Linked DNA regions of Homo sapiens. The protein of the gene in region 2 purifies or fractionates together with the protein of the main gene of each other region. This does not show direct contact. Each region holds a gene or a part of one and is shown on either strand. Other genes may lie near its edges. The genes, in order: COA1 and RFWD3.

Region 1 (3,817 bases), on a different chromosome or scaffold from region 2:
CTCAGGAGAGTGAGGCAGGAGAATCGCTTGAACCTGGGAGGTGGAGGCTGCAGTGTGCCAAGATCACACCACTGTACTCCAGCCTGGGTAACAGAGCAAGGTTCCATCTCAAGAAAAAATTTTAAAAAAGAACAAATTTTCAGGGTCCCACTGTTTGAGTCAAGCTACAGCTTTTCTCTGGAAATTATAGAATTAAGCAACAGAGTATACACTGAGCATCTCTGGATGCTTTAAAAAAAAATTTAAAAAGGAAGGAGAAAGAAATGGGCAGAAGCAAGAAGGATTCTGAAGAAGAGCAAACTCTGAGGGGCCAATGTCTGAACTGTGGGCAGCTGTGCTTCCATGGGTAGATGTGACACTTTACAGGTTGGTTCCTTCACCAGCCAGACCTTGCCAAAGATTAAAGCAGGAGTTCTGGTAAAGCAAAGTGTTGGTCACTGGTGACTATCTCACACACATACTTGGGAAAAAATCCCAATGTATGACAATTACTTCATGAACAACTGAAACATCTCACCTCTGGAAAAACTGTAAAAATTGCAAATAAAGGAATTTGGGATAAGAGGGCATATGCTGTATACAGGCATCCTCACAAACCGCTGATTATAAAGAAAGGACCCTGACAGAATGTCAAAAATAGTCCACAAATTGGAAGGCGTGCACTGAGGCTCCAGGTGGCCATGATGCAGCAGACTCTGAACTCCTGTCACTGCAGAGTCACAGCATTTGGCCGCAGTAGAAGCCAGAACCTAGCACCACAACCAACATAGTCACAGCATGGCCAAGGCCCCAGGGATGTGGGGAAGCCCAGGAAGGCGCCCTCTCAGCACCACTGGGGCCAAAGTGAAAGCTGGACAGGACAAAGCTCCCACCAAAACCACCATGGCCTTACCCTACTCTCACTGGGGTTCCTGGAGCACCAGATCATGGATGCTGCATCAACCAGCCCCAGCAAAGGCGCCTTTGGCACACAATTCCTCAGTGCTACAGCTGGGCTCTGTGCTGAGAGAAACGCAACAGCCAGACCTACCCAGTGGCTTTTCCAAGTTCTCAGGATTGCTGGGGTCTAGCCAAGTGACCAAAGGCAAGGAAGCAACAGACAGGCTCCGCCACACCATGGGAGCAATCCGGTGGCCTGGCACAGAGTGAGCACTCCACACATGCCCAGCCCTTCCCTGTGCTCCTCCTCCAGGATGTCCTCTCTCACGCAGTGTCGCTGCCGTCCTTCCACTCACGTCCATGCTGGACACTGGACCATCACCTCTGACCCACCCGCTCCTGATACATGACTGTTACCAAGTTCTGTCACTTGGATGCCACGATGGCTTCACATCCGTCTTTTGCTTCTCCAGGCCACACCTCTGGTTCATGCTCTCACCACTGCACACCAGTGTGGCCACATCTCTCTCCTAAAGATGGCTCCCCGTAGCCAGTCCCTGGGCATTACCAATCTACACAAATCCACCTTCTTTTAAAACCGAATATTTTAATCAGAATACCAGAGCATGAATTGCTTTTGTAGTTAGAAAAAAGTCTCATTAGAGCTGGGTCCATTAAGAACATACTAAAAATAACAAAAAATAATGTAGGTCGGATCACCTCACTCATCCTCCAAATACTTTACGGGCTTCTGCTGCCAGAGTCAAGCACACACCTTCCAAGATGACACTGTGGCCCCTGGTGGCCGCAGCCCCTCCTACCTGCCCACACCCACCTCGCCCACCTGTGCCTCCACTGCCGTATCACACTGACAGGCGACACAGTGATGAACTTTCCCAGGCATGCTGCTCCTCAGCCGGGTGTTCCTCTCCACCTTTCAAAGTCCTCACAGCCATCTCCCAGGCCTCGAGCCACTTCCCCTAGGCCTGCACAATAGTGACAGGGTTTCCCTCACCCTGTCTTACTCAGGAATTTTCAACTGTAAACCCCCAAAAGCCTTCTGCACCTCTATTCCCCACATAGCTTAGAATCATTTCTCAAACCAGAGCATATACTCAAAATATGTTTGTTAAACAGAACAAATGTGTTTTACATGCAAGTGAGTGTGATCAAGTACAAAAAGATAAGTTATAGCTAAAAAAATGGGTTGGTATTCTGTGGAAGCAATGTAAATAAATACACTTTAAAAATCAAAGTTTAAAGAGTTGGGTACATTTGAATGAGCACTGACTGGATATAGATGCATTTCTCTTTTTTTTTTAATTTTACAGACAATTTCACTCTGTCACCCAGGATGGAGTGCAGTGACATGATCATAACTCATTGCAGCCTCCAACTCCTGGGTTCAAGCGATCCTCCTGCTTCAGCCTCCTGGGTAGCTGGGATTATAGGTGTGCACTATCACGCCTGGCTAAATTATAGATAGATAGATTAGATAGATAGATAGATAGATAGATAGATAGATAGATAGATAGATAGATAGGCAGGCAGGCAGGCAGGCAGGCAGGCAGGCAGAGAGACAGAGAGAGAGAGAGAGAGAGAGAGAGAGAGAGAGACAGGGTCTTGCTGTGTTGCCCAGGCTGGTTTCAAACCCCAGGGCTCAAGCAATCCTCTTACCTCAGCCTCCCAAAGTGCTGAGAGCTATCAAAGCCAACATGGTAGCAAACCACCACTGGTCATTTCTCTACTACCTTCAATTCAAGATGGCGACATCAGCATACCCACTGCATTCCCTGCCACATCAATTCCCCAGAATGGAAGAAAAGTATACAGAAATATCTATAATATAAAATATATTTTATATAAACATTAAAATCCATAATAGAAAAACTTTTTTTAAAGGTGCCAAACCTAGCTTTACTTAGTGGATTTTCCCATCCCAAATCCTTAACTCCAGGACTTTCCAGGAGACAGTAGACTCTCCTCTCCTTCAGCAGGCACCAGCCTGCGGTTCGCAGGGAAAGCACATTACCTTGGCATCAACAATGTCCACGAAGTTTTCCCTGTCGATGAGCTTGAGATAATGGATGTTGAGAGGAGGGCCCAGAGCTTCCTGTGCCTCGGGATGGCTCTGCAGCTGCTCCACTGCCAACTTGTAATATAAAGCCCTGGAATGAAACTCTAAGGACGAAAGACACACTTATTTTCTTTATTGAACTTGGTCAGGTAGAATCTACTACACAGAAAATTAAATAATCCAACTGACGTACAGGGTAGAAACAGAAACGTGAAATCTGTGGATGGACGAATAATTAAGGCCATCTACTCTAAATTGTCCATTTTACAGACTCAAAAACCAAAGCACAGGCAGGCAGTGTTTTGCAGGGATGTGCAGATGACCTTGGGCCTTGACCTCATGCAGACCCTTTCTGCTTCACCTCATTTCTACCCTCACTCATTGCCTTATTTTGACACCTAAGAGGTTTGGTCAGCTCTTCTCTAAGTTTCCTCTCAAGTCTCTAAGTTTGCTCTAAAGTCCTACTATGATTCCATGACTTGTTCAAAGTGACACAGCTGGTCCATGGCAAAGCCGAGGCCAGAATCCATGATACCTGACTTCTCAACACTGCCTGTTCCACTAAGTTGAGACATAAAATAGAAAGACCACAACATTAACAACAAAACCCTCAGGCCTAGAAACAGGATATGAAAATGTTCATTCATCAAGATTTAAGCCAACATTTCAACTCAAACTGCTCTCAGTCTCAGGAATCCTTCTGAGCCCACAGGCTACCTGGGAACTCCGGGAAGCACCTCCCTGAAGCTGTAAGTTCTAATAATCAGCTGCCCAAAGGAGGGAGCAGAGGCAGGCTTCCCAAGCAGGGTGTTCAGTTTGGCCGCAGAAAGTGCTTCTCTTCTGAAGGTCCCATCACACTAA
Region 2 (3,817 bases):
AAACAAAACCAAAAACAGACAGGTTTAATTAGTTAGGTGTGGTGGCACGCGCCTGTAATGCCAGGTACTGGGGAAGCTGAGGCAGGAGAATCGCTTGAATCTGGGAGATGGAGGTTGCAGTGAGCAAAGATTGTGCCACGGGAATCCAGCCTGGACGACAGAGTGAGACGCTGTCTCAAAAACAAAAACAAAAAACCAAAAAACGGACAGGGTATAGGCAATTGTTATTCTTCATAATAACCCTGTCAAGACTTGACAGCTAAGCCCTTCAAGAGGCAAGTTCAAACCAAGACTATGAAAGAAAATTAATTAATTGTGCCCCCAGGTGGAATGCCAGTGAATAATGAATTTGGGTGAGTAGAGACTTGCAAGTGAAGAAAGAATTTTTGGTGTACAAGACACAATCTGAACAACAGCCAATCTCTACAGAGATTGCCAACAAACTACCACCTAGTTTTCAAGGCACAACAGTTTAACTTATCCCTTCATTACTTTGTGAAGTAAGGCAAGCACTTTTATTTCCACCTATGAGGAACTGGGGGTCAGAAGTTACCTGACTTGCCAAAAGTCACACTGTCAGTCCTTGAATGGCAGAGCCTCAGTTTCATAATTTCTAGTACAGCAATGATCACAGACTTATCCATATATTTATTTACCTGGCACTGTCTGTCCTCTGAGACCCTCCGGCTCTTGCCCTCCGTGAAGCAGATACCCTCCTTCTTGTTCTCATTGGCCCTACACTGTGGTTTGAAGATGAAGGTCTCAGGAATTCCAGCATGCCATGAAGTCTCTGCAGTCCGCTGATGAAGTTGGTCATTGAATGCAACGAAGATGCTGGGATGGTGTGATTACCATCAGATCCCTGCCTATGTTGTTCTGAAGTTCTTGGATTGATGTTCTCCACAGTGTCTTCTCCCAAGACCTCCACTTCTGTCAGGTCAACAGACAGTTGCGGAGCAGGCTGGAGCAGGGGTGGTGTCGCTTGGCTGCTGATCACCTCAGCAGGAGCTGGCTGGAGGATGGATGGTACCCCCTGGCTGCTGACCACATCAGCAGGAACAGGCTGGAGGAGGGCTGGTCCCCCTTGGCTGCTGGCCATGCCAGCAGGAGCTGGCTGTTGTTCGGCATGATTTAACTGCACCTGAACATCATATTCCATTGCTTCATGAGCCATCACTAGAGAAACAGTATTTGTAAAAAGTATTAATAAAATAGATAAAACATGCTATGTAGGTGACAGAATCATATTTAATCTTTCTGATTTTATGTTTAATATCATTCTTAGCAAGACTGAGAAGCTTCAAGAGAAGATTTTAACTACTTAAGTCAGAAGTGTTTGGTAATGGACTTTCCTCTCTATAACAAGCATTTATAACCAGTTTTCCGGTTTGCCCTTAGAAAACATGAAGTCCTGTGATCATAGTAGTATCTTCCAAAATAGAAAGATCTATAAACCAAGGAGATTAAACTACTGGGTCTAAAAGTAATCTCTCAGACACTTTGCAGTTCTCTCAAGCTGAATATGGACATTCACCAAAATCAAATGCATATAATGCAGTATCTAATTTTAGCAGGCAATATTAATCTTTCACAGCATCAACAGTTACAAGGGATAAATAGAGAAAGGACATTTTTTACACTTGCAAAATTAACTGTTACTAACTCAAAATGGAAACTTACCTAATGTTTCCAAAAAGGCTGAGCAAACTTTATCCTATCCCTTTCATTATTTTTGTTTTCCATCTCTAATTCCATCATGTTAGCGTATTCAACAAATATTTATTAAGCACCTATGTTCTTTTCATGTTTCCTATCTTTAATTCCATTGTATCAGTTTGAAAACTACCACCTAGTTTTTAAACTAAAAAAAAAAATTTTTTTTTGTTATATAGATGAAGGCTTCCTATGTTGCCCAAACTGGTCTTGAATGCCTGGCCTTACCTCCTCATGCATCAGGACAACAGGACTGAGCCACTGTGCCTCCCTACCACCTAGTTTTTAAAGTACATCAGTATAACTTATCCCCTTAATTACTTTGTGAAGTAAGGCACGTGCTTTTATTTTCATCTGACTTATGAGGAAATGGGGGTTCAACTAATAGTTATTAAGCACCTGTTATGCAGACAAGACACCCTAGAGGCAAAAACAGATAAGACCCCATGTATCAGAGTTTAGATTCTAGCAAGTAAGATGTCAATAAACAAATACATGAAAAAAATTATAGATTATGATGTTTGGGGTTGAGGAGACAAAGAGGACCAACTAAGACACAATTGTGAGGGAAGTACTCTTTTAAAGAGTGAAAATTGGGCTGAGGCATGAAGGATTAAAAGCAGCTGGCTATGCAAAGAGCCAAGAAGAGTCTCAGAAGGAAATCAGTGCATAGGTCCCTGATGAGCATGGGTTTCACTGATGAACAGGACACCATTATTAAAGGGCCTATGGGCCTTGGTAAGGAGTTTCTTCTATGTTAGGAATGCACTGTAGGGGTGCAAGAGCATAAGCTAGGTGACCAGTGTAGAGGCTATTGTGGGAGTCCAGACCAGAGGTCAGAGAGACCTAGGCAAGAGTGGTAGCAGTGGAGATGAAAACAAACAGACAGCTTTAAGAATCTTCAGAATGGTCATGCTTCTTTTTTTTTTTTTTTGAGATGGAGTCTCGCTCTGTTGCCCAGGCTGGAGTGCAGTGGCGCGATCTCGGCTCACTGCAAGCTCCGCCTCCCGGGTTCACGCCATTCTCCTGCCTCAGCCTCCCGAGTAGCTGGGATTACAGGTGCCTGCCACCACGCCTGGCTAATTTTTTGTATTTTTAGTACAGCCGGGGTTTCACTGTGTTAGCCAGGATGGTCTCGATCCCCTGACCTGGTGATCTGCCAGCCTCAGCCTCCCAAAGTGCTCGGATTATAGGCATGAGCCACCGCGCCCGGCCAATACTCATGTTTCTTAAAATCATCAAAGCAGATTAAACCACCTGAGGAACAGAATGACAGAAGAGGGCTGAAGACTAAAGTCAGAGACACTACTGTTAAAAGTACAACAGAGTAAAAGAAGCCAGTTAAGGAAGATTATAAAGTAGGAGGAAACATGGGAATGTGGTGTCTTGGAAAAACAATGTTTCAAGGAAGGAACAATTGAGTGTCAAGTGCTACTGGGGGGAAGAACGGCCGCTAGATTTGGCAACATGAGGATGACAGGTGACCTAAAAAAGCAGTTTCCCTGAAGTGGTGGGGTCAGAGGCCAGACTGGTGCAGGCTGAATAAATGGAAGGAATTCTAATAAACATAGTGGACGAAGTACATATATGTATCTTTCTCTCTCCACTCCAGTCATTCCTAAAACCCACGAACATGACCCCCACAACCTGAGACATTTTTTTAAGAAAGGATAAATTAACCAGGACGACACAAATGCAAACAGGGTATGATATGCAAACCAGTTTTTTAAGGCCATAAAGGAGAAACTGATGATTGATGACTGCTTAGCAGAGCCAAAAGATAAAACTCAAAGCCTGCAAAGGGCACAGTGGTTGGGGTGAGGTGTGTTATTGAGAAGCAAGCTGATTCCCACTAAAGGGACTGTAAAAACCAGGTACCACAAAAGGCAATATTGAAAGATGGCGCTAAAAGAGAAGGGCTGGTTAAAAGCCAGTAAAGCAGTTAGCTTGACTCCTACTCAAACACCAGCCAGCTAAAACAAAACACAGAACAAAGCCCTTCTCCCCCTATGCACGAGAAAACTGGAGGTTTGAACCACACAGGCTTACACTCAGGATGGAGAGTGGCACAGTACTGAAAATAAGTGGGAAAGAAAGTCTGCAA

What was found.
Region 1: the proteins of RFWD3 (region 2) and COA1 purify together in Homo sapiens (affinity purification with mass spectrometry, with the first as the bait; one large-scale study listed by BioGRID). This does not show direct contact.

Annotation. Positions count from the first base shown.
Region 1 is NC_000007.14:43,642,340-43,646,156, forward strand, and holds part of COA1 (cytochrome c oxidase assembly factor 1 homolog), read right to left. Parts: intron 3,061-3,817; coding exon 2,912-3,060; exon of another isoform or gene 2,907-2,911; intron 1-2,906. UniProt on the Homo sapiens protein: Component of the MITRAC (mitochondrial translation regulation assembly intermediate of cytochrome c oxidase complex) complex, that regulates cytochrome c oxidase assembly.
Region 2 is NC_000016.10:74,660,276-74,664,092, forward strand, and holds part of RFWD3 (E3 ubiquitin-protein ligase RFWD3), read right to left. Parts: exon of another isoform or gene 1,681-3,817; intron 1,179-1,680; exon of another isoform or gene 1,177-1,178; 5' UTR 1,175-1,176; coding exon 657-1,174; intron 1-656. UniProt on the Homo sapiens protein: E3 ubiquitin-protein ligase required for the repair of DNA interstrand cross-links (ICL) in response to DNA damage. Plays a key role in RPA-mediated DNA damage signaling and repair.